2 separate regions of the Homo sapiens genome follow, and region 1 is linked to region 2. The links come from fine-mapping of genetic effects on gene expression. A gene starts in region 2. The other region holds a variant in brackets. All regions are shown on one strand. Distances are from middle to middle.

The links. PIP is the estimated chance that this variant, and not a neighbour inherited with it, causes the effect.
Region 1: its variant is the best candidate, but not a certain one, in a credible set for the expression of SRA1 in whole blood (TOPMed, PIP 0.51).

Annotation. Positions count from the first base shown.
Region 1 is chr5:140,160,905-140,163,931 of GRCh38, forward strand. All of the region lies in intron 1 of LOC101929719 (a long non-coding RNA gene), which reads left to right. Among named protein-coding and RNA genes, the nearest start is that of CYSTM1, 13 kb to the right of the region's middle. The variant A/T (reference allele first, on the strand shown) is at 1,314.
Region 2 is chr5:140,556,057-140,558,556 of GRCh38, forward strand. It overlaps SRA1 (steroid receptor RNA activator 1), which reads right to left and starts at 1,417. Exons shown (of 5, transcript NM_001035235.4): 1 at 1,372-1,417; 2 at 1,091-1,216. The coding sequence starts at 1,396. APBB3 (amyloid beta precursor protein binding family B member 3) reads right to left here. Exons shown (of 13, transcript NM_133173.3): 13 at 2,212-2,500. RefSeq lists a silencer at 1-126 and enhancers at 650-1,471, 1,337-1,696, 1,787-1,846.

The sequences.
Region 1 (3,027 bases), 390 kb before region 2:
TACAGGAAATCACATAGTTATCTAACATTTTTTCTTTTTTCTTTTTTTTTTTTTTTTTTTTTGAGACGGAGTCTTGCTCTGTCTCCAGGCTGGAGTGCAGTGGTGCAATCTTGGCTCACTGCAACCCCCGCCTCCCGGGTTCAAGCAGTTCTCCTGCCTCAGCCTCCCAAGTAGCTGGGATTACAGGTGCGCACCACCACGCCCAGCTATTTTTTGTATTTGTAGTAGAGATGGGGTTTCACTGTGTTGGCCAGGATGGTCTCAATCTCTTGACCTTGTGATCCGCCTGCCTTGGTCTGTATCTAACATTTTTATATTGAATTTTTCCACCAAGAATAACACCCTCAAGGTCCCTTGAAGTTGTTGCACACATTACCAATAGTTCATTCCTTTTTATATGGCTGTACCACAGTTTATACAGTTTATACATTTACCAGTTGAAACACATTTGAATTGTTTCCAGTTGTTGGACAATTATAAAGTCACTATAAACATTTGTGTACAGGTTTTTGTGTGAACAGAAGTATCATTTCACTGTGGGAAAATACCTACAAGTGGGATTGCTGGGTTGTATGGTAAGGGCATATTTATGAGAAATAGCCAAACTCTTGCAAACTGACTATACAAATTTTGCATTCCCACCAGCAGTGTGAAAGCTGCAGTTTCTTTGGATCCCTGCCAGCACTGGATATTACCGCTTCTTTTGTTTTTGTGTTTAGGATTTTAGCCCTGCCCCACTATAGGTGTGTAATGGTACCCCACATAATTTTTTTCTTTTTGGCAGCGTTTCACTCTGTCGCACAGGCTGGAGTGCAGTGGCGCAATCTTGGCTCACTGCAACCTCCACCTCCTGGGTTCAAGCGATTTTCCTGCCTCAGCCTCTTAAATAGCTGGGACTACAGGTGTGTGCCACCATGCCTGGCTAATTTTTGTATTTTTAGTAGACTGGGTTTTACCATGTTGGCCAGGCCGGTCTCACCCACATGACTTTTAAAACATAAATAAGACCAGGTCATAACCCTCTTTTTTTTTTTTTTTTTTTTTTTTTTGAGACAGGGTTTTGCTCTGTTGCCCAGGCTGGAGTGCAGTGGTGTGATCATAGCTCACTGCAGCCTCAACCTCCTGGGCTCAAGTAATCCTCCCACCTCAGCCTCTCAGCCTCACAAGTAGCTGGGACTACAGGTGCACACTGCCACACCCAGCTAATTTTGGGGTTTTGGGGTTGTATTTTTTTAGAGATGGGGTTTCACCATGCTGCCCAGGTGTGTCTCAATCTCCTGAGCTCAAGCAATTTGCCCACCTCAGCCTCCCAA[A/T]GTGCTGGGACTACAGGCATGAGCCACTGTGCCCGGCCTATAACCTTTCTTAAATACTTCGAGTGGCTTCCCATCACACTCAGAATAAAATTCAAACTCAAAGGGCCTGCCAGGCTGCCTCTCCTGATCTCTTATGCCTCTTCCCCTCACTCTGCTCCAGCCACAGTGACTTCCTTGTTTCTCTAATGCCCTAAGCTTGTTCCTCCCTCAAGTCTTTCACCTGCGGTTCCCTCCACCTGGAATGTTCTTGCCCTGGGTATACACATGGCTCAGTTCCTCATTTGGTTCTGTCTAATGTCAGCTCCTCAGAGGCCTTCCCTGGTGGTCAAAATGAGCCCCATCCCTGCGCTCACCCTCGGTTCCCTTATCCTGTTTTATTTTCTTCATAGCACTTATTTCTCCTTGATATAATATTATATCAATTGTTGACTTGCGTCCTGTCTGTCTCCCTATAAGGACAGGGCTTGGCTTTTTGATGGCTATCTCCAGTGCTTAACACAGTGCTTGGCATATAGAAGGAAATAATATTTGTGGAATGAATGTGTATGGGAAACCTCTTGTAACCCTCCTGTCATCCTTTTGGCCCACGTTTTACTCAGCCATCACTGTGGCAACCAGCTTGGAGCAGGTAAACGCACCGAGGCTCAGCTGCTCCACACGGCTCTGCTCTTGCCTTCTGCTGGGGCTTCTCCCTGGACTCCAGTACTGCAAACTGGATGTCTGAGGATGTTAACCCCTTGGGAGTAACCCTGGGCCCTTGGCGGCTGGGGTTGGTGGCTATGTGCTTTCTTCTCTGACACTCAGTGGACAACTAGGAGGTGCACTCTACACTGCTCCTCATCACATCCCAGCTGGGTCAAGCCCCAGCTGCCCACAGTGGTGACCAGCTCTATAACACACCATGGCACTGGCTTTCCCTTGTTCCTACTTCATGAGTCTCCCCAGTCCCCTATTCCTGCTCCCTGGGATCATGTCCTGAATTAACTTGCAAGCATGCTCTTTCTCTGCTTTCTCTACCTGTAAGAAGGTAGCAGGGATAGAGAAGAGCCCAGGTTACATTAGAACAATATATGAAACTTATAGACTAGTAGGAGAGACCAATACAACAAAATTTAAATAACTACAGGTAAAGAGATGGACTTTTCAACAGATGGTGTTGGAATAACTGAATATCCATATGGAATGCAATGCATTTCAATCCTTACTTCATACCATACTCAAAATAAATCAAAGAACTATTAAAAAAAAAACTATAAAACTTCTGGAAGAAAGAAATTCTGCCAGGCACGGTGGCTCATGCCTGTAATCCCAGCACTTTGGGAAGCCGAGGTGGGTGGATCACGAGGTCAGCAGTTCGAGAACAGCCTGACCAACATGGTGAAACCCCGTCTCTACTAAAAATACAAAAACAATTAGCTGGGCATGGTGGCAGGCGCCTGTAATCCCAGTGACTTGGGAGGCTAAGGCAGGAGAATTGCTTGAAACCGGAAGGCAGAGGTTGCAGTGAGCCGAGATTGTGCCACTGCACTCTAGCCTGGGCAATAAGAGCAAAACTCCATCTCAAAAAAAAAAAAAAGAAAGAAAGAAAGAAGAAATTCTTCATGATGGTGGGGTAGGCAGAGATCATAGAAAGAACTTACTATAAAAGGAGGAAAAAGACAGCATTAAAAAGATAAATAGGTAAGTCATACACTAGGAGAAGGTTTTGTAATAC
Region 2 (2,500 bases):
ACACTTTTGGCTATCACAACTGGGTGGATGCTACTGACATCTTTTGGGTAGAAGTCAGAGTTGCTGATTAACATAAGACACAGGAAAGTCCCTCACAAAGAATTATCTGGCCACAACCTATCAATACTGCTGAGTTTAAGAAACCAAGCCTTGTATCATTCTTCTACAGCAAAAAGGGTGTGGAGAATGGAGGGCCACTGAAAGAACCAAACCTGAGCCCCTTTATGGGGGCCACGGCACAGCCCATTTAATGGCTTGGAAAATTCTCGGGGGGAAAGGTGGCTCTCCTCTACTTTAAACTTTTCAATGGCTTCTAACTTTATGTAGATTAAAATACAAATTCCTCATCCTGCTTTACAAAGCCCACTATGCTGTAGCCAGCCACTCTGTATTTCATCAGTCTCTGAATTGGCCAAACTTATTCCTTTTGCAGCTGTTTCTTTTGCTTGGAATGCTTTTGTACATGATCTTTGTGTGGCTTAAATGTCAGCCCCTCAGACACCTCGTTACCCAGTCATATTACATCACCGCTTATTTTCTGTAGCACCCTCACCACTATTTCATCTTTCAGCCCATCTCCAGTGCTGCAACGTGGACTTCCTGAAAGCAGAGATCTTTTTTTTTTTTTTCTCACTGCTGTCTAGTTCGCCCTCAAACAGTGCCTGACTTATAGAAGTGCTCAGTAAATAACAGTGATTAAATGAATGAAAAACTGTGAAGTCTGACGATTATCATATACCTAAGTGAAGACAGAATGGACAAATGAATATGCCACTATACGGTTCTGGCAAGAGGTATAGGTTAACAAAGAAAAATAACTTCAGGATTAAAACTATATTAAAAGCCACAGGTCTGGATAAGATCATCTAGGATGAAAAAATAGTCTTTTTAAATCAATACACCATTTATTAACCTGAGCAGCAGAGAAGGGGCTCGGAAAAGCACCTGCTCTGAGACCCTTACTGGAGCCCCAAAACTTCTCTCCTTAAGGAGCCCTCGGGGAGAGAAAAAAGCCTTCCAAACAGGCTTATGCCTTACACCCCCCCCCCCCCATTCTCCGTCTGTCTCCGAGCACAGGGGCCCCACGCACCTCTGGGGGATCCATCCTGGGGTGCGGCGACCCTCTTGGTAAGCAGCGAGCGCCTGGGTCCGCCGGCCTGGGTCTGCAGCCCGTATGAGAACTGCGGCGGGTCGTTCCAGCCGCGTTCCTTGTTGCCTGCGGAGGCGAGGGATGTGTGAAGCGAGCCCGGAACTCCACTGTTAGCTTATACTGGGGCTGGGGGAGACAGAGGGTCCATACTAAGCGCCGCAACCGCCCCCAGCCTAGGCCGGGGCGACAACCTAGTGCCCTAGCCCGCCGGCTGCGCTCACCCGGCTTCACGTACAGCTCCGCCATCTCCACTTCCGCTTGGCCAGCGGGGCAGCGCGTCATTTCCGGGGCGGCCCCTCACGCGGGCCAGTTGAGACACGTCCAGGGCCAGGCGGGTTGCCGGAATCCGTGGAGGATGGATGCTGGTTCACAACCGTCGGGAGCCGCTGTGGGGACCCTGCGGCAACTCCCTAAGACTCGAAGGCTCCATCTAATGAACCATCAGGGCCCTGGTCACAAGGCACCAAAGGAGGTTGCTGTCCAGGAGCCAGTGCTCTAGGAGGCCTCATCCTCTCAGGAGCAAATTCAAACAAAGAAGCTCCTGCCCCACATACACCCCGCTGTGATCTAGCCAGGTTGACTTCTACAGCCTCCTCTTGCATTGCCCTGCACAATCTCCACATTCACGTCCGGTAGCCTCACTAGTACTCATCTTCCTTCAGTTCTCAGTTCAGATGTCAGTTCTTCAGGAGGCCTTCTGGAATGTCTCAGGCCAGGTTAAGTGTCTCACTTGAGCTCCCACGACCCTACAACCCTCTGAGATTTCGTAGGTGTATTACATCACATCTTCTGCCTTATTTGACTCTTGTTCGTTTCCCTGTCGGACAGTCTTAGAAGGTGGGACCTTGACTATTTTATTACATTCCCAGTGCCCAGCTTAGTGCCTGGCACAGGGAACTCCTTAGAAAATATGTTTGTTGAATGAAGTCAGATCTCCATCACACCCATGCTGTCATGTGACTACAGAGAGCCACCAACATCAAGCACAGACACAAAGACACTCATCTCACACAGGGTGTTAGCCCCCAGCCCTGTCCCAGGCCCAATATACTCACATCCAGTGAGGTCACTGAGGGATTTTTATTTGCACTGATTTTGCTATAAAGTGTTACTGAGGTAGAGCCAACTGTCCAGGGTTGGACAGGGGCAAGGAACACAAGGACCCAAGGAAAGGGGAGCCAGGGTCCTACGTTGTGGTGCAGTGCCTCCCAGTCATCCGTATAAACAATAAATTGGGCAATAAATAGACGGTGGACAAGGATCGGAGGGACAGGCAGAGAAGGCTTCAAGGAGTGACAGGCTATAGGCCTTGAGGAATAAAACGGTACAGAGTTAGGCATGGACCCAGAG